Homo sapiens: one gene and its partners. The protein of the gene in region 3 purifies or fractionates together with the protein of the main gene of each other region. This does not show direct contact. Each region holds a gene or a part of one and is shown on either strand. Other genes may lie near its edges.

Region 1 (6,885 bases), on a different chromosome or scaffold from region 3:
AGGAAGCAGGGAGAGCTGTATGCATTTGAGAGGGGCTCTACAATTTGTGAGAGCATTTTTTTTAAACTGGAAAAGACAATGTTACTAAGTCACATAGGCTCCTGTCACTAATGATGTGTACATTTGCCCATCAGAAATGCAGTGTCATACACCAACTAATTTTTTGAGAAATAGTGATGTTAAGAGCATTGTGTGTGACAATAATAATACTTCTAATAAGGCAGAATAAAAAGATCTCGCCCTCTAAGGGCTTAATCTGAACTTCATTTTTTGGCTGTCAGAAGAGTATTTTAGAAAATTAAGTCAAAAATTAAGTAGGTTCAAATGCTTGTTTCTTTTTGTTTATTTGTTTTGGGTTTTTTAAAATTTTTATCTGTTTAAGATGACAGAGTCTCGTTCCATTGCCCAGGCTGGAGTGCAGTGGCACAACCTTGGCTCACTGCAACCTCTGCCTCCTGGCTTCAAACAATTCTCGTGCCTCAGCCTCCCTAGTACCTGCTGGGATTACAGGTGCACACCACCACACCCAGCTAATTTTTCTATTTTTAGTAGAGATGGGGTTTAATCATGTTGGCCAGGCTGGTCTCGAACTCCAGGTGAAATGCCCACCTGGGCCTCCTAAAGTGCTGAGATTACAGGCTGAGCTACCAGGCCTGGCTCCTCATATGGGTTTTAAATGTATATCTAATTCTTATTTCTTCTTTGCTTCTCTTTTTGATGACTGAATCATCTAAGTGAAATAAGACAGACACATTGTGCAAATATTGTATAATTTCATTTATATGAGATACCTACATTGTCAAATTCATAGAGACAGAAAGTACAATGGTTACCAGGAGCTGGGAGGAGGGGAAACCAAGAAGAAACACTTGGTTTCTGTTTAGTCATCTCTTACCAGGCTTGAACTTAACCTCAGATCAGCTGAGTCTGGGTGGTCTAAATCTACATAATTAATTGAAAAGTAATAATAGCTTGACAATAACACTTACTGAGTACATACGAAGTGCCAGGCTTAAGTGTCAGACATGATCTACGTCAAGAAACAGTTTTAGGCAGATTTACAAATGCCATATTAGTTTACTATCCTCTACTATCTATTTGCTCTCAAAAGCAAGTAAACAAAGCCCACATATCCCATTCCAGAATCAGGAAAACAAAGAGACATTTCTCTGTGCCAAAGAGCCTGTCAGCCAATAATATTTGCGAAGCTTACCACGCAGCTTACGGTGTCATGTGTTATGAAGTGGAAATTTCTGGACAGGCTATATTTCAATCCATTACATTTGTTTATGAAAACAGGCTTGCAGGTATTGCTGATCTTTTATATAGAAAGTCTATTCTCTAGGAAAGAATCTGGTTCAGTTAATTATGATGGAGAGAATCATGCATGGAAACAACAGTTCAAAACCGACAGTAAACCCACCTCAAAGCAAAAGCATTTCTGGTTTTTCTCAAGTAGCTGTGTTAATGTGGCATAAGAGAAAGCCTGACTAGCAGGTATAATTAAAGTATGAATCATAGGAATAAGCATGAGTAACTATGAAAACACCTACAAGAAATAAGCCCATTATAACATGATAAACTTTAGGGAATCATGAGTGAAGGGTAGGAGAAAAAATCCTAATTCCATGTAAATGCAATGATGGGCCTGAGTGGAAACATATTGATAAACAATAGCATCAATGTATTATTAGTACAGCATCTGTGTGAGGCTGTGGAACACAGCATATTCTGCCTTATGCTTTATGGGTACTTATTTTCCACATTTCCTTTTTCTGAGAACTGCTTGAGGTCACGGATAATGCTTCTGTCTTTTTATAGAAATCACTTCCCCACCCAGACCTTAGTAATGTAGACAGTAGACATAAAACATATCATTACATACATGAATGGGCAAATGATAACCTGTATCATAGAATGTACAATACATCTGCCCTGGCATGTAACACTTTTAAAGAAAACTAAACATTGACATCCAACATATTAAATGCAACTTATGAAACACCAATGATGCATTTTTAAAGACTTAATCACAGTACGATGATTTAATGAAAAACAAGAAGAGAATGTTATATTTTATCGTTTCGTATCTCAGCAGTTTGGCACTGGATTCAGTTGATAGGAACAGCAACATGGCAAAAGTTGAAAGGAAACTGTTTGGCCTGGGTGATTTTTTGTCTTTCAGGCAGAGTAATGAGTAAATACAAAATCACCTCTGGTGAGACACAGTCCACTGGTGTTTATGTCATGTCATTTCATTAACTGACAAACAGAATTACTGCCTCTCCCTTCCCCAAACCTGCAAAAGAAAAAAAAAATTGAAGAGTATTTAGTTAACAAAAACAAATTTAACACTTGGAGTTAAAATGGCTCTAATAGTGACTGGTCATTTTGCCAATATGGGGCCAAAGATGTGAATATGGATGGAAGGTGTTTTGAGATGGAGTCGTTCTGTCACTCAGGCTGGAGTGCGGTGGAGTAATCTCGTAATCTCGGCTCATGGCAATCGCCGCCTCCCGGATTCCAGTGACTCTCCTGCCTCAGCCTCCCAAGTAGCTGGGACTACAGGCGTGCGCCACCAGGCCCAGCTAATTTTTGTATTTTTTAGTAGAAACTGGGTTTCACCGTGTTGGCCAGTATGGTCTCCAACTCCTGACCTCAAGTGATTCTCCTGCATCAGCCTCCCAGAATGCTGGTATTACAGGCGTTAAGTCACTGCGCCTGGCCCATACTGTTTACATTATCTTATCTGTTTTAGGTTTACATGTTATTTTTAATGTTCCTGTACATTTAAAAAATTGAAACCAAGAATCTTGACTGGCTCTGAAACTTAATTGGGAAAAATGTAAAGCACTTTAGTGGAATTTTTCCCATGATCTGTAGAATAGTTTTTAAACAGATGGTTCATATGGACAAAGCAATGAAAATGCAGAAATTAAAAGCAGATCCTTAAGAACAATATCCGAGTTCTCAGAAATCCTATAGATGATGTCAGGACGAGATGTAAAGCAGTCGTTTCTTTTGCTGTCAAGGTTTTAAGAGAACAGAAATTTATTAGGTGAACCTCCACCGGAGGAAGGATAAAGCCTGTGGGTAGGAGTTAACTATTTATTTCAAACTCCAGTCCACTTCAACAATTTGAAAATTTTCCCGCTCCTAGGACAATTCCATCCAGGTGCCAATAGGAGATACTACTATTGTGATGCAAATAGGTATTCTACTAGAAGTAGGAGCACGTAAGCAGAGTGAGGATGACTTGAAAAATCGTCCCACCTTCCCAGCTATGGAGTGGGGGCAGGGGGAAGAAACACCTCCAGGCTGGATCATTGAAGCTGAGGGGTGGGAGAGCGACGGGACAATTTTTCAACGTGGAATTCAAATGCATTCGGTGGGGAAGTGTGAAGTAAAATCTAAACGAACGCTAGACAGTAGTATCTTCCATCTACGCTTCAAAATACTCAGACTTTAGGGAAACTTAACGTTGGTTTTTCTCCCAGAGAATTGTAGGGAGTGGGTGGAGGGGACACTGTTAGGGGAGGTATATTGGGAGTCAGATCCTTTTGTGGAGCGAGGGACCCCGAAGTGTCACCAAGGGCTAGCCGAAACCAGGGGCCCAAGAGGGGACAGGGCTAACACCCCAGCCAAGGCCGGAGCGCAAGCGCGGGGCTGCAGCGCGGGGAGCCCTGGAGCCCAGTGCGGGCGGACGGGTGGGGCAGGAGGGCAAAGGGGCGAAGGGGCGGGGTGGCGCTGGGTGGGAGCGCGGCGGCGGGGAGGAGGGTCTGGGAGCCCGGGTGCGATTTGCAAGCGCTCTGAGCCTGCGTCCGCCGAGGGGGAGGGTTTCCCCAGCCCGGCCGGAGTTGCGGCTGTGCGCTGCTTCTGGCTCACAACGCCGACGACTGTCAAGAGAGTTGGGGAGTGGAACTGCCGGAAGTGTCTGCGCGCCGTGAGAGAAACTTTCCTGCTCCGGCCGCGGCCCGGAGCCTCGCCGCCCCCGCGTTCCGAACGACGATGCGTCCAGATGACAACAACCTGAGGGGACTCGCGCCTCGGCCCGCCGCCCGCGCCTGCGCTCGCCTAGCCTCGGGGGAGGAAGACTGAGCCCGGCGCAGGCGGCGCGGCGCTCGGGGCCCGTTTCCTCCGCGCAATCAGTCCCCTCGCGTCCCGGCGCCTTCCCCGCGATCGCGCGACCCCAGCGCCCGCCGCGGCCGCCGGCTGCCCCCGCCCTGACCTCCGGCCCGGACGTGTCCGCGGCCGCCGCTGGCAGCGCCTGTGCCATGGGGCTGCCCACTCTGGAGTTCAGCGATTCCTACTTGGACAGCCCAGATTTCAGGGAGCGCTTGCAGTGTCACGAGATTGAGCTGGAGCGAACCAACAAGTTCATCAAGGAGCTCATTAAGGACGGCTCTCTGCTCATTGGGGCGTTGAGGAGTAAGTAGGGCTGGCGGGGGAGTGGACACCCGCATCTGGAGAGTCCCCGCGGGGTGCGGGTCCGAAGGGTGGGTTGGAGGAGTCGGAGCTTCTTTTGTTTGAATGGATTTGGGGACAAAAGCTGAAGAGCTCCCCTGCTGGTGGCCAACAAAGTTTGTTCTTGAGGTGTTCTTTACTTACTCACATGTCTACAGGGATGGGGAAAGTTCTCTACAGGGCACTGGAATATATCCTGAGGAAAGTCGTTCAAAGTCATCTCGTTGTGTAATGCTCCTAGGAAGATGTTGGGGACTTTAATTTTTTTTTTTTAATTTATTGTGTCTATTAATAGTTTGAACTAAAAAAGCCCTTAAGGGGGGAATCAAGAGTTTGTCTTAAAGATAAAATTAGGCTAGTTTAGTGATATTGAAAGAAAATTATTAATGTCTCTCATACGTCAGTGGCTCTTCATTGGACACAGTCATTGAGTTGGCTTTTTAAAAAGCATACATTTGCAGTTTTGCCATTTTGTAAGATAATGGAAGACAGCAAGGCACCAGTGCATTTTAACTCTGCAAGTTTTCTGTGCGTCTTAGTTTTGGTTTGCATTGTGTGGGTGTTGGGTGTGTCATTGGGATGAAAGTTAAGGGGTTAAAGGCCAATCAGAACTTTTGATGATCTGTAGAATATAAAGACTGTTATAGTCTATAATATAGGGCTTCTTCCACCTCCTTTCCCATACACCTCTTGATCAAATTTTCCTTCCTCCTTTTATCCTCTGGATCTTAGCTTTCAATTCCTAAGACCTAAGAGTATCTGAAACTGAAGAGTTTCTCTTACAGAGAATTGAGCACAATTACATGATATGGCTTGTTACCTTTCCCAGGAGGTATTTGCATCTTTTAAAAAATTTATTTTTATTTATTTATGTATTTATTTATTTTCCATCTTCAAAGGAGCCTGTGAAAAGTATTTGCATCTTAATAGAGGCTTCTGGATGTTTTAGCTACTGAAATGAAGCCGTGGAATCTCTGGTCACTTAAAGCTGGGTGAGTGAGGTACTTTCAAAAGGTAGAGAGACCTTTGGGTGATCTAGTTACCCCCAGGACATATATGGGGGCATCATCTTTGTATAACAACATGATAGGGATGTGTGCGCCTAAAACTGAGACAATACTAGTATCGGATCTATATTTTGAAACATGTATTAACAGTAAGGAGAGAGCTTAGCAAGATGTCTTGAAATTAATGTGCTCCAAAATATCTTTTAATCATCCCAAATGTTAAAACATTTACTTAACCACTTGTGTTACTTAACCAAGGTAAAGATAATATATTTTATGCCCATATTCACTTAATTTCTGAATTTGAGGCTACTACTAATAATGGTATTTACTGTGATTTGTGAAAAATATAGTTTGTCTGCAATTCTTGCCACCCTACATAAACACTAATGTGAACTGTCCTTCCTCTGGCTTGCAAATCCTGGTTAAAGTCTCGCGGGACTAACCTCTTTGCATCTAAGAGAGCATGATGCCTCTTCAAAAAGAGCTGCATCTCAGAGTGTCAAATGCCAAGCCAGTTCTTGTTGGAGGTGCCAGATATTCTACATTTTTCTCCCCGCTCTGCTTGAGATAAACTTTAGTGTTTCAGAAGGTCAAAATACTTACATACCTGTGATAAATGCTCTGACATGTACATTATATTACGAGTGACATTACATACTTTATTATGATGGTTGAATCTAGCTTTGTAAAAGTCAGGTGATTCCCATCATTATAGTTTTGTTCTTCCATTCATAAGTGAAGAAATCTTGGGAGCGTAGGCTCTTTGAAGATATAGGCCCTGCATCATTAATTTGGCTTATGCACTTAATTATACAACCTGCTATCTTTCTAGGATTCTTAAGTTTGTGGTGAGAGTGTATTACTTTAACTAACGTTTGATTATTACTTCTTTCATTGTGAAAAGGAAAAGATTTTATTCCTTGGTAAAAGGATTCCTAACAGCAGCTGCCAAATGGGAGGGATTTTGGAGCAAAGGAACCCTTGAAGTCACACTGTAGCACTGATTTTTTTCGTACCAAGCCACCTTTTGTCCCTTAGGAAGGATGCTCTGAGGCTGGGCTGCAGCTGCTTGGATAGGAGGAGTGTGTCAGAAAGGATTTGAAGCCTGCTTGGTTCTATCACTGGCTGCCCCTGCCCTGACCACTAGCCCAGACATGTCCCCTGGCATAGCTGGCAGTGCTTGTACCATGGGGCTGACCATTCCACTGTGGGAGCGTCCCTGTACCATAAGTCTGCCCACTCCACTAAGGGAGTCCTTCTTCCCCCAGTCTGTCTTTTCTGTTTTTCTTTCCTGCCTGGGGAGGACTTCACCTTCCCTAACTTTATATAGACTATTTCAATAGATGTATCCATTACCCGTTTCAGTTTTTTTAGCACGGCACTGTTATTTTTATTAATAATTAATGCATTC
Region 2 (7,027 bases), on a different chromosome or scaffold from region 3:
GGCTGGCCCTGCCCGCTGCGTTCGGATGGCTGGGCACAGACACCCATTGTCTTTGCTTGCCCAGGGGTGTGGGGCTCAGACACAGGAGGGCTGGCCCTCTTGCTTCCTGTGGTGGCATGGACTTCACCTTGAGTCTTCTCTGCCCACCCCCAAACCCGGGGCACCCAATCCCCTGCCCCTCCCTCCCTTTCTCCCTGTCCCAAACTGGACTGAGCAAGTGAAAGAACCAGTCTGAGATGGAAGAAAAATGAGCTTTCAAGAGGCCTAAGAATATTCACTCCTGCTCTTGTGCATGAGGGCCAGGCCATTTTGAGGACCTGTCTTTAGGAGAACTGGCGGTCTCTGCCCCTGGGACTGTGTGAGGCTCGAGGTGGCCAGGTTCTGACCCAGGCTGCTGTTCACCTCTCGACCCCCTAACCCGGCTTCTTCCTGGCCTGTCCCCAGGACTCGGCAGAGGACGTCCACTCCCTGGACAGCTGTGAATACATCTGGGAGGCTGGTGTGGGCTTCGCTCACTCCCCCCAGCCTAACTACATCCACGATATGAACCGGTGAGCTTCGCCCAGGCCCGGAGCCCTCAATGCAGCTGGACCCCGGGCCGGGCCCCCGCACAGCTCAGAAAGCCCATGGGGTCTTCCCAGAAGACCGTCCTCACCTATGACCCGACCTTGACCTTACAGGGGTCAACGGGAGTAACTTCCTTCCATGGACCTGGGCTGGGGCGCTGGGCTGGGTGGGCAGAACCTCCAAGAGGGGACTGGGATCCTAAGGTGCCCTCCCCCTTCCTCCTACAAGGATGGAGCTGCTGAAACTGCTGCTGACATGCTTCTCCGAGGCCATGTACCTGCCCCCAGCTCCGGAAAGTGGCAGCACCAACCCATGGGTTCAGTTCTTTTGTTCCACGGAGAACAGGTGAAGGGCCCTTGGCCTTTCTGCGCTCTCTTCCCTCTTATTCCAGGCAATCCAGAGCTGAGTCCATTCGCCAGCTCTGGGTCTCGTTTGAGGGGAGGTGCTGCCCCCTGGTGGTGATGAACTTTAACTTACCAGCCACACCTCACACTAGCCCCGTCTCTCCTTGGAGTCCTCGACAGGACAGAATCTGGGGGCCCCTCAGTAATCCGTCCCTGGGTCCTCCATCAAGAGCCGCCTGTCCAGTAGAAATAGAATGCAAACCACGAGTGCAATTTTAAAATTAAAAAAGTTAAAAAGTAAAATTGGGCCAGGCGCGGTGGCTCACACCTGTAATCCCAGCACTTTGGGAGGCCAACGTGGGCAGATTACCTGAGGTCAGGAGTTTCAGACCAGCCTGGCCAACATGGTGAAACCGTATCTCTACTAAAAATACAAAAATTAGCCAGGCTTGGTGGCGGGTGCCTGTAATCCCAGCTACTCGGGAGGCTGAGGCACGAGAATCGCTTGAACCCGGGAGGCGGAGGTTGCAGTGAGCCGAGATTGCGCCACTGCGCTCCAGCCTGGGTGACAGAGTGAGACTCTGTTTCCAAAAAAAAAAATAAATAAATACAATAATTAATAATATATTTCATATAACCCAATATACCCCAAACTTTAGCATTTAACATGGAATCAGTATACAACATTACTGAGCTGTTTGACATCCCCCTTTTCATACTAAGTTTTCAAAATCCAGTGTGTATTTGTCTTGGTTCCGATCAGCCACATTCCAAGGGCTCGACAGCTCCTTGTGGCTTGAGGCTGCTGTGTGGGACTCTGCAGCTTAGAGACCGGGTCGGGGAGTGTGTGACAAATACCTCGAAGGGCAGGGAGGCCCAGCCCACATGGGGCACTCATGGACTGTGGGGGACACGTGAGCACGGGGTGGGGGGAGGGTGTCACACGTGCCACGTGGCAGAGTTGAGTATTTGAGCAGGTAGCTCCCACTGGGAGCTGTGTTGGCTGCATAGGGTCTGTGCCCGGCAGGTGGCGGTCGACCTCCGCCTTCCAGACTCTGGTCCCTACATGACACGCCTTATTCTTCAGGTTTCCTAGCCTTCTGTTCAACCTTCCACCCTACTCCAGAAGAGAAGGGAGCCAGGCGACCCCCTCCACCAGCCACAGTCCGAGGCTGGCCAGAGTTTTCTTTCTCACCAGCCTTATCAGGCAAACTGCCACCCTTTGTCCCTCACTTAACCTCTCTGGGTCTCAGCTTCCTCATCTGTAAGCTGAGCAGCTTGAACCCTGACATCTCTTGAGTCTGAGTGGAGTCATTCTGTGGCTTGGGAGCTGGTTGGCTGAGCGTGGGCTCTGCTCCCTGAGGGGAAGCCCACCTTCTCCACAGGCCTCCATTCCCATCTCTGAGGACCCAAGGGAGGGTATCTGCCCCTTAAGACCCTAAGGGGTATGAATGTGTCCTAATCATGGCTCTGGGCTTCCCACACCCACTCTTTCCAAGCCACTCCCTGACGTGGTGCTAAAATGCTTGTTGAATGAGGCTGACCTTCCCACGTGGCCAGAGAGGTGTGGCCAGGGGGCTGGGCCCCAGTGCAGCCTCTGCAGCCTTGTCCCTCTCCTGCTGCAGACATGCCCTGCCCCTCTTCACCTCCCTCCTCAACACCGTGTGTGCCTATGACCCTGTGGGCTACGGGATCCCCTACAACCACCTGCTCTTCTCTGACTACCGGGAACCCCTGGTGGAGGAGGCTGCCCAGGTGCTCATTGTCACTTTGGACCACGACAGTGCCAGCAGTGCCAGCCCCACTGTGGACGGCACCACCACTGGCACCGCCATGGATGATGCCGATGTAAGGATGGGAGCATGGAAGGGACAGCTGCCGGGGCCACGGGTTGTGGGGAGGACGCCTGCTCACCAGGGGCTTCTCCTCTTGGCAGCCTCCAGGCCCTGAGAACCTGTTTGTGAACTACCTGTCCCGCATCCATCGTGAGGAGGCAAGTCCAGTCCCCACAGTGGCTTTGCAGGGTGCAGGGGGATGCAAGTGAGACAGGGATATGGGGGATCCTGACCCCTCCATGAAGGAACCATGCTCTCTGTGGGCTGGGGCCACCCTAGGTGAAATAGTGGCAGGACTGTGAGGGTTTCAAGATGCAGGAAGGGCTGATGGCCTCACCTGGGTAGAGGTAACTGGGAAGGCCTCTAGGAGGAGGTGGCTGATGTCATTTCAGAGGTGGTGGGGACAAAAGGGGAATGACAGTGGACAAGGGCTTCAGGCCAAGCAGTCCCAGTTCATGTGTCTTGTGATCTTGGTGGGAAGGTGCTTGAACTCCCAGAGTTCTAACTTCTGCAGCTAAAACACAGGACCCTAGCTGCCTTCTCACCCCAGCTAGTGGCAGGCCTCAGTAAATGACAGAACAGTGGAATGCTCCTCGAGTTGTGATGGGGTGATGGGGGAGTATTTTGGGGAGGGGTAGAAGGATGGAACCTGCCAACCATGAGTCCAAGGTGGGCAGGGACAAGGTTGAGGGTGTGCATGTGTGGGAGTTCACTGAGAGCAGCAGCCTTGCTCAAGGGGCGCACAGCCCAAGGACAGAGAGTCTGCAGTCTAGTGGAGGGGCCAGGGCTGTCCACAGCTATGAGGGACTCCGCTTCCTGAGGCATCGCCCCAGGACAGCTATGGGTGATAGCATCTGGGCCCTCTGGCTCTGGAGGTGGGATCTGGCTCTGGGGGATGGAGGGGGGGATTTGTTGGGGGCCTGGGCTGGGAAACTGGAGCTGCAGGGATTGGGCTGGACAGGCCCCCTGCTCTGCCCTCGCCCCCAGGACTTCCAGTTCATCCTCAAGGGTATAGCCCGGCTGCTGTCCAACCCCCTGCTCCAGACCTACCTGCCTAACTCCACCAAGAAGATCCAGTTCCACCAGGAGCTGCTAGTTCTCTTCTGGAAGCTCTGCGACTTCAACAAGGTGGGCCAGCCTCGAGGGGCCCTGCAGGGAGATGGAGAGCAGCTGCCCCAATAACCCGGGGGCAGGGACAGTGTCAGACTGAGGGGGGTGGGGCAGAGCTGCCCCTCCCTTGAACTCAGCCCACTTGGCCCCTCCCCGCACCCCTAGAAATTCCTCTTCTTCGTGCTGAAGAGCAGCGACGTCCTAGACATCCTTGTCCCCATCCTCTTCTTCCTCAACGATGCCCGGGCCGATCAGTGTAAGACCAGGGTGGGGGTGGGATGCTGGGGGCTTTCCTGGCGGCGAGGTGGAGGGCTGGCTATCTGCCCTGACTCCCAGGAGCTCAGGCCTGGCACTCTGACCTCCTAGGAGGGAGGCCTCCAAAATGGTCACTGCCTGGGCCCCTCCTTCCCCCTCCCACCCGAGTGACCCCTCCCACGCCACCTGCCGCAGCTCGGGTGGGCCTGATGCACATTGGTGTCTTCATCTTGCTGCTTCTGAGCGGGGAGCGGAACTTCGGGGTGCGGCTGAACAAACCCTACTCAATCCGCGTGCCCATGGACATCCCAGTCTTCACAGGGACCCACGCCGACCTGCTCATTGTGGTGAGGGGGCTCGTGCGGCCGGGCCCAGGAGGTGCAGGGGTGGTGTCCTCTTGGCTGAGTCTGGAGGCAGCGGGGACCCCACGGTGCCTCTGTCCCTCCTGGCACAGGTGTTCCACAAGATCATCACCAGCGGGCACCAGCGGTTGCAGCCCCTCTTCGACTGCCTGCTCACCATCGTGGTCAACGGTAGGGGCCCGGAGCTTGCACTCCCCGCGCTCACCACCAGGTGGTGTCAGGCCACAGGCCAACCTGCCACTTGCTCCAGGTTTCAAGCCCCTCCAGCCCACAGAAAGAACGCAAGCTTGTGTACCCTTCATAGTAGCCACATTAAAAAAAAAGGGTGACAACAATTGAATAATATGTTTTATCTATCATCATCTCAACATGTAGCCAATATGAAAATTACTAATGAGATATTTAATATTCCCTTCTCACACTCAGTCTTGTCGCCCAGGCTGGAGTGCAGTGGCACCATCTCAGCTCACTGCAACCTCCGCCCCTTGGGTTCAAGCAATTCTCATGCCTCAGCCTCCTGAGTAGGTGGGATTACAGGCGTGTGCCACCACACCTGGCTAATTTTTGTATCTTTAGTAGAGACGGGGTTTTGCCATGTTGTCCAGGCTGGTCTCGAACTCCTGACCTCAGATGATATGCCCACCTCAGCCTCCCAAAGTGCTGGGATTACAGGCATGAGCCACTGCATCTGGCCTTTTTTTAAAAAAAAAAAATTTAACAATTTTTTTTGACATCTGAAGGAGGTTAGCCCAGTTTATGGGAGCCACTGGTAGTCCGATAACATTTTTACTTTATTTATTTATTTATTTTATTTTATTTTATTTTTTATTTTTAAGACAGAGTCTCACTCTCTGTTGCTCAGGCTAGAGTGCAGTGGCACAATCTCCATTCACTGCAACCTCCCAGGTTAAGTGATCCTCATGCCTCAGCCTCCCAAGTAGCTGGGATCACAGCATGTGCCACCACAACTGGCTAATTTTTTTTTTTTTTTTGTATTTTTAGTAGAGACAGAGTTTTGCCATGTTGGCCAGGCTGGTCTTGAAGTCCTGGCCTCAAGCAATCTGCCTGCCTTGGCCTCCCAAAGCGCTGGGGTTACAGGTGTGAACCACCACACCCGGCCATATTTCATTTTATTTCTAATTATAGTGACGGGATCTCACTATGTTTCCCAGGCTTGTCCTGAACTCCTGAGCTCAAATGATCCTCCTGCCTCAGCCTCCCAAAGTGCTGGGATTATACAGGCGTGAGCCACTGTGTCTGGCCTCTTGTGTGTTTCATATGTGCAGCACACGTGTTAGGACTAGCTGTGTTTCAAGCACGAAATGGCCACACGTGGCTGATGTCCACTGTGTTGGGCAGTGCAGGTTTGGACATTTGGAGTCACAGTGTATGGGGATGTGGAGGCCCCACCCTTTCTGCCTTTGTCCTCCCTGTCCAGCCCCTACCCCCACCCAGCAAGGACTGCACACAGCTGCTGGGGAGAGGAAGCAGAAGGAGCCAGGCTCCCTGGGGTTCAGGACCTAGCAAGGCAGGTGGCCATGGGCTGGGGCAAAATGCCTTCAGTGTGAACATCTTTTGGAGAGGATGGTTGTGGCTAGGGGTGGCTGGTCTGTCTGTGTTCTGGTTTAGACTGCAGGGTGGGTAGTGTGCGGTGGTAGAGGCCTCTAGCTGGGCTGTGAGCTTTGGGGTCAGGACTGTCCCTTCCCCTCCTGGTTCACTCTCTGGCTCCATCTCACAAATCTTAACTGAGCTGGTTCCGAGAACACACTTGTGACCAAGACAGCCCTGGTCCCTGCCCTGTGGAGCCCTCAGCCTAGTGAGGGAAAATGACACAAGACAAGGAAGTGTTCAGATCAGCATGGAACTTCAGTCTGGGTGTGCCCCCAGGGTTGGGTCCCAAAATACACCTCTAGTGACATGGCAGCTTGACGTTCTAGAAAGATTTAAAGTCTTGAGTTTGTATCCCTGCCCGATCATTTCATTACTGGGGAACTTGGGCCAAGTTTACAACCTTCTCTGAGCCTCAGTTTCCATGTCTGTAAAATGGGGATGATCTTGTCTGTGTCCTGCCTCCCTCGTGGTATGGGGGGGACTGGCATGGGTGGGATGTGTATGGCTTTATAAGCAGGACAGCTGTCTTCATGGTCGAGGGGTGAGGGTGGGGCCTAACTGCCTCCCAGGACTCTGCACACAGTATGGCCAGTGTGGACTCAGCCTCTTAGGGCCTTGGTCGTCCTGGCTCTGCAGGGGGCAGGGAGGGATTGAGAGCAGGAGCCTGTTGTTCCACCCCGGCCCAGGATGTGCAGGGATGGCTTGGCTGAGGGGCCCAGGAGTGAGCTGACCCCTCCCTTACAGTGTCCCCCTACCTCAAGAGCCTGTCCATGGTGACTGCCAACAAGTTGCTGCACCTGCTGGAGGCCTTCTCCACCACCTGGTTCCTCTTCTCTGCCGCCCAGAACCACCACCTGGTCTTCTTCCTCCTGGAGGTCTTCAACAACATCATCCAGTACCAGTTTGATGGTGAGGCACCAGCCTGAGGCCCTGGTGGTCAGGG
Region 3 (7,027 bases):
TCCATTGTACTGAAGGCCAGGGTGTGTAGAAATGGGTGGTTTGGCTAAAGGAGATGGTGCCTGGAAATAAGATGAAAAAATAAAATTGCAAAGCTTCCTTGCTGATTGCATTAGGATCACTAAAATTGCTAGGTAATGTGGTATTTCACTTCCCTTCATTTGGAACAATGAAATGAGTAATTAGTTCAGTTTGGCAGAATGTTTCACTAAAAAATATGGTGTTAAAGGTACTTTTAATACTTTGAAGTACAAGATATAAGATAACATTACAGACTTAGGTAAGTAAAAAGTTAAGATTTAGGGCCAGGCGTGGTGGCTCATGCCTGTAATCCCAGCACTCTGGGAGGCCAAGGCAGGTGGATCAAGAGGTCAGGAGATCGGGAGCATCCTGGTCAACATGGCGAAACCCCATCTCTACTAAAATACAAAAATTATACGGGTGTGGTGGCGTGTGCCTGTAATCCCAGCTACTTGGGAGGCTGAGGCAGGAGAATCATTTGAACCAGGGAGTCAGAGGTTGCGGTGAGCTGAGGTCGTGCACCTGCACTCCAGCCTGGCAACAGAGTGAGACTGTCTTTAAAAAAAAAAGTTATGATTCAGAAAAAGAGGGAAAAAAGTCTTCTGATGCTAGGTCTTGAAGAGCCAGAGTATCGTGCTAAGGACTTTGGACTTGATTCTAAAGACAATGGAGAGCCAGTGAAGGATTTTAGATATAGGTGTTTAGGAAAGATAAGCTGAAAATGGTTTGGAGGCTGAATTGGATGAAGAGAGACAAAAGGTAGGGAGATAAGTTAGGAGGCTGTTGCTATTGAAATAGTCCAGATAAGGGAGGATAGGGGCCTGGAGTAGGAAAATAGTAATAGGGATGGAGAGGAGAGGATAGATAGTGAAGGTGTAGAATTTGACAGGGCTTTAAAATCAATTGGCTCAAAAGAGGAACAGAAAAGTAAATGACTTAGTTTTTTAGCTTGGAAAACTGTTTGGATGAAGGGTCTTGTTTTATTTTTTAATATTGGAGGAAGATAATTGTTTCCATTTTGAATTCATGTTGAGTTTGAATTGTCTTTGGAGCATTCAAGTGGAGATGTCGAGAGAGGATCTAGAGTCCAGAAGCCAGGCTAAAATTGGTGATTCAGATTTCAGAGGTAGCCAGTAAGTGTTAATTGAAGCCGTAAGAGCAGATGAAATTGCTCAAGGGAGTATGTAGAATTAGAAGAGAAGAGGGCCAAGAATAAATGATTTGCTTTATGTAAGTAGAAGGAATTATTTATCTATGCTAATTTTGTCCAACAAATTATTATTATAAAGCAATGAAATGGATTTTAATTGAAAGTTGAACAACTTTTACATCCAAATGAGTCCTGTTCTTTTAAAATTTCATTTGGAAGTCACTCATTTATTCCAGAAGTACAGATGCTCCTCAATTTTCGATAGGGTTATGTCTGAATAAACCCATCATAAGTTGAAAATATTGTTAGTCAACATGTGATAAACTTACGAAGGGTTTATCCGAATGTAACCCCATCATAAGTTAAGGAGGGTACTGAGCACATACTGCTTTGGCACCATCATAAAGTTGAAAAATTGTTAATTTAAACCATCATTAAGTCAGGGACTGTCTGTATTGCCCAAAGTATTATTGGAGCTTCTCTTTGTAAAAAGCTTTATAGCAAATTCACAGCTACACAAGAACGTAGATCTTCTGGCTTTATTATGGAATTGTTTTTCTGTCTCTTTATTTGCATGGCACATATAACTTATTTACTTTTTTTTTTTTTTTTTCAAGAGACAGGGTCTTGCTCTGCTACCCTGGCTGGAATACAGTGATGCAATCATAGCTCACTGCAGCCTGGACCTCTTGGGCTCAAGGGATCCTCCTGCTTCAGTCTCCTGAGAAACTAGGACTACAGGCATGCACCACCACCCCCTGCTAATTTTTATTTTTTATTTTATTTTTCTTGAGACAGAGTCTCTCTCTGTTGCCCAGGCTGGAGTGCAGTAGTGTGATCTCAGCTCACTGCAACCTCTGCCTCCCAGGTCCAAGTGATTCTCCTGTCTCAGCCTCCCAAGTAGCTGGGACTACAGGCGCACACCACCATGCCTGGGTAATTTTTTGTATTTTTGGTAGAGATGGGGTTTCACCATATTGATCAGGCTGGTCTCGAACTCCTGACCTCAGGTGATCCACCCGCCTTGGCCTCCCAAAGTGCTGGGATTACAGGTGTGAGCCACCACACCCGGCCTGACCCCCTGCTAATTAAAAAACAATTTTTTTTGCCCAGGCACAGTGGCTCACACCTGTAATCCTAGCACTTTGGGAGGCCAAGGCGGTGGGTCACTTCAGTCAGGAGTTTGAGACCCACCTGGCCAACATGGTGAAACCCCATCTCTACTAAAAACACAGAAATTAGCTGGATGTGGTGGCGCGTGTCTGTAGTCCCAGCTCCTTGGGAGACTGAGGCAGGAGAATCACTTGAACCCAGGAGGTGGAGGTTGCAGTGAGCTGAGATTGTGCCATTGTACTCCAGCCTGAGAGACAAGAGCGAAACTCTCCATCTCAAAAAAATTTAAATAAATAAATAAATACATAAATTTTTTTCTTTTGTAGAGATGGGGTTTCACTGTGTTGCCCATTCTGATCTTAAACTTCTGGGCCTAAGCACTCCTTCTGCCTCAGCCTATCCAAGTGTTAGGATTACAGGCATGAGCCACTGTGCCCAGCTTCCGTTCACAATCAATCAAAGCTTCGAAAGCATATTCCTATCCCATCACTGGATCTTTAGTTCTTGGAAGTCATAGACAAAGCTTAAAAAACAACAAAAGACTGTGTCCCCATGCCTATAATCAGCACGTTGGGAGGCCAAGATGGGAAGATCACTTGAGCCCAGGAGTTCTAGACCAGCCTGAGCAACATAAGGAGACCTCGTCTCTACAAAAAATTTTAAAAAATTAGCTGGCATGGTGGCACATGCCTGTGGTCCCAGCCGCTTGGGAGGCTGAGGTGGGAGAATTGCTAGAACCCGGGAGGCAGAGATTGCAGTTAGCCAAGATCGTGCCATTGCACTCCAGCTTGGGTGACAAGACAAAAAAAAAAAAAAAAAAGAATAGCAGTATGGTCTTCTAAGGCAGGGGTTAGCAAATATTCTGTAAAGGGCTAGATAGCAAATATTAATATTTTGTACTTTGTGTGCCATACGGTCTCTGTCATAACTACCCAATTCTGCCAAAAAGCAGCCATAGACAACGCTTCAATGAATAAGCATGGACTGTGTTCCAATAAAACTTTATTTATGGACACTGAAATTTGAATTTCATATAATTTTCACATCACAAAATGTTATACTTATTTGATCTTTCCACCCAACCATTAAAAAATGTAAAAACCACTCTTAACTCAGAGGCCTTGCAAAAACAGGCAGTGGGCCAAATTTGGCCCACAGGTAGGCCATAGTCTGCCAACCTTAACGGATCTTTGAAATATTTGAATTCGTAAGCTTGGTTTAGAAAAAAAAAATCATGGTTCTTCGAAATCATACCTCCTGTTTTTAAATTCTAGTACATTTCTTAAAATAATTAAAACATTTTCATTCATCCCCCATTTCTCATTTAAATGGAAAATACTCCCTTTACTGGTTTGGAACTTTAGATACAGAGAAATAGATTAACTTGTACAGAGTCAGAATAAAAAAGTATGTTTGAAAAATGTTTTTTGATATTCAGTGTTCTTTACTGAATCAATAAAACATTGATCTTTTCGCTTCAGTGAAAGTGGGGACATTGAAACCTGGGTGAAATAAAAGATAAATTTGAAGGGGTATTCTGCACTGGTTCCCAGAGGGTTGGACAGGATGGAATTTTATTCTCTTTTTCTTCTGCCCTGAATGAATAAGTTTTATCCTAAAGAAAAGAAAACATGATAATGTCTTCACTTTATAAGCAGTATAGCAAATTATAAGACTGAAGGATTAAGTAGATGATGATAAGAGAAAAAAATTTAAAGGACTGACTTTTTCACATCTATCTATTCCAGGTATTTACCCATTTTTTTCCTTCCTCCCTTTCCTTTTCCCTCTTCCTTCTTCCTTTTCCTTTTCTTTTCTTGGTCTTTCTCTGTCACCCAGGCTGGAGTGCAGTGGCACAATCATAGTTCACTGCAGCCTCCAACCCCTGGGCTCACACGATCCCTCCACCTCAGCCTCCCAGTTAGCTCGCATTACAGGTGCACGCCACCAAGACTGGCTAATTTTTTAAAAAACTTTTTGTAGAGATGGGGTCTCAATACGTTGTCTAGGTTGGGCTTGAACTCCCGACCTCGGGATCCTCCCATCTCAGCCTCCCAAAGCGCTGGGGGTACGAAGCCATTATGCCTGGCCCCTATTTTTGAGGAATAAATTCAAGATTTTTTTTTTTTTCTTATGAATCTTAGACTTCTGGTTAGTGGCGTGAAAACAGAGTTTTTAGCATTTAGTTCTGGCAATATTAATCCATTTATATTATTTGAAGGTTGTGCTGTACTTTTTAAAGTTAAATGTCTAACTTTCGTAGTTTTCATAGCAGTGATAAATATTTACAACAAAGGATATGGAGAGAAATTATTATTTTTTTTCCTTCAAGTTTGAATTCATAGAAATGACATATTTGCGGATTTTTTGTTTGGATGTTAAAATTCAGGGACAGATTGGTGGGGGAGAGAGAGAGTTATTTTTGCTGCTACTTAAAAGGGATTTGCATTTTTCTCTGTCTTTTTTTCTGTTGGAGTAAAAAACAAAATCTCCCAGCTGTGTGGGATGTGTTTGAATTGGTTACTTAGCAGTGTAAAGCATAATTTTGTATTTAAATATTTATCTGTACTCTTTGATATTCTGATTAAATAAGGATCTATTAAGGCTATAATAATAGAGCCTTCTGTGAGGAAATGACATAGGCTGCTCCACAACAGTATTTACTGAAAATTTCCTTTTCCCTGGGCCCTATTTAAACTATAAGGGGTAATTGGAACAAAAGGGGAAAATTATGTGAATTAGAGTGATGGTCAATTTAATCATGAGTGTAATGTGATAGCTATCAATGTATAGTTTTATTGACATAAATCAGGGTTGAGCAAAGAGTGGGAGAATTTTGTCTGCTGTTGTTAAAAATGGTGAGTCGTTGAACCAAATTTTATTTTTGAACTTTGCATTCGTCAAGTGTGATATTTTCAAGAGTCTGGTGATAATTGTATTTTTAAATCAAATTGGATCAATTTGCCTTTCAAATTTGTTGTTTCATTATTAGAAGAAAAAAACGAAGTAAAAAATACAGAGGTATGTGCAATGACTGGATCTGGAAGAACAAAAATATTGAGGGAAATGGTCACCTGAGAAAAACTATTAAGACTTTCAATGAAGATTATTTAAAATATGGCTTTGTCAAATGGGCAAAATCTGAGTAAAATGACAGACCCATGTCTTCATATAATGTTGCAAATGAAAATTAAAAACCTTTAAAGTTAAAAAGATTCTTGGAAACATAGCATACTGGACTTTTAAATAAGCCCTTTCAAATATTTTCAAAGAAAGAAAAAGAGATAAAGTTATCTCAGTTTCCTATTTATTCAAGAATCATTCCTGAGAAAGATTATTGTCTCATTTAGTTGTGTATCAGTGGCATAAGGGAAAAATGGCTACATATCTCTTGAAAAAAGTATTCATCTATAATTCATGGAAGTTGTGCTCATGATTTTTGATGCTAAATCAGCTGGAAATTAAAAATTATACTTCTTAGTGATGACATAGCTCTATTCTTTACCATTATTGGACATTTCAGCAGTGCTTGCAAGATGGGTAGAGTCTGGTGCAGATTTTGCAATCCAAATCGATGGGGTCGCTGATATTGTAAGTTGTACTGTGCTTTTAGGTAGTGAAGATAATAAGGAGGATTTTCTTTTCTTTTTTTTTTTTTTTTTTTTGAGACGGAGTCTCGCTCTGTCGCCCAGGTGCACAGTGGCACAATACCGGCTCACTGCAACCTCCGCCTCCCGGGTTCAAGCGATTCTCCTGCCTCAACCTCCTGAGTAACTGGGATTACAGGTGCGAGCCACCATGCCCGGCTGATTTTTGTATTTTTAGTAGAGACAGGGTTTCACCATGTTGGTCAGGCTGGTCTCAAACTCCTGACCTTGTGATCTGCCTGCCTCGGCCTCCCAAAGTGCAGGGATTACAGGCATGAGACACCACGCCCGGCAGGATTTTCTTGTTGTTTAAATTTAACCACAGCTGTATGGGTATATTTACAGAATTTTAAAAAATAAATTGTTGATCCTCAGAAATTAAACTGGGAAAAAACTATTAAATAATTATGAGCAATTGAATAGCAAATGTGGTTAGAAAATATAAAGCAGTTATTTTAAGCATTGTTTGAAGCTGCTACTAACAGTGTTCCCTCCCCCTGTCCAGCCTCCCGTGCAAGTCTCACAGTGTGTTTTAATGAGTATCTCCTCAAAGCACCTTCCAACACTCAAGGGGAGGGAGGGAATTAGAGACAGGCAAACTTACAGCCAGTAGTCAAAACAATACAGCTGAAAGTATAGACATCCTCCTGCTTTCTTCTGAATGTCCAGGGCAGCAGGAAAGCTTGGAGCTTTCCCTCCAGCAAAAACAATAGGCTGGGTGTGGGTGAACATACTGTCCAGCAAGTCACTGCTGGGCTCCGTTTCTGTCCTGTTTGTTCTAAGGGCTAAGAATGGTGTTTGAAACTGCTGTTTTATATATTGCAAAGCTTTGGTATGCACAGAAAACTTTCTGAATCTCATGAATATATTGAAAGTTGTTAATTATATTAAAGGAAGCTTGCTGAGTAACCAACATTTTAAAATATTCAGAGTTAACTGTACCTATTTACTATATCACATTGGAGTTTGATAGTTGAGATAAGGAGCTAAGCAGATTTTATGAATCCAGAATTTTTCTAGCTGAGAGGCAATCTCAGTCAGGCATGGTGGCTCATGCCTTTAATCCCAGCACTTGGAAGGCTGAGGCTGGAGTATCAC

Evidence for each region. The genes of interacting proteins can lie anywhere in the genome.
Region 1: the proteins of DENND2C (region 3) and ARHGAP42 purify together in Homo sapiens (affinity purification with mass spectrometry; 2 studies listed by BioGRID and IntAct, with this or other methods). This does not show direct contact.
Region 2: the proteins of DENND2C (region 3) and HID1 purify together in Homo sapiens (affinity purification with mass spectrometry; 2 studies listed by BioGRID and IntAct, with this or other methods). This does not show direct contact.

Annotation. Positions count from the first base shown.
Region 1 is NC_000011.10:100,683,405-100,690,289, forward strand, and holds the start of ARHGAP42 (rho GTPase-activating protein 42), read left to right. Parts: upstream 1-3,883; 5' UTR 3,884-4,274; coding exon 4,275-4,428; exon of another isoform or gene 4,429-4,551; intron 4,552-6,885. UniProt on the Homo sapiens protein: May influence blood pressure by functioning as a GTPase-activating protein for RHOA in vascular smooth muscle.
Region 2 is NC_000017.11:74,955,758-74,962,784, reverse strand, and holds part of HID1 (protein HID1), read left to right. Parts: intron 1-444; coding exon 445-551; intron 552-795; coding exon 796-912; intron 913-2,536; coding exon 2,537-2,759; intron 2,760-2,847; coding exon 2,848-2,904; intron 2,905-3,733; coding exon 3,734-3,874; intron 3,875-4,021; coding exon 4,022-4,112; intron 4,113-4,306; coding exon 4,307-4,458; intron 4,459-4,565; coding exon 4,566-4,644; intron 4,645-6,828; coding exon 6,829-6,993; intron 6,994-7,027. UniProt on the Homo sapiens protein: May play an important role in the development of cancers in a broad range of tissues.
Region 3 is NC_000001.11:114,660,027-114,667,053, reverse strand, and holds part of DENND2C (DENN domain-containing protein 2C), read left to right. Parts: intron 1-7,027. UniProt on the Homo sapiens protein: Guanine nucleotide exchange factor (GEF) which may activate RAB9A and RAB9B. Promotes the exchange of GDP to GTP, converting inactive GDP-bound Rab proteins into their active GTP-bound form.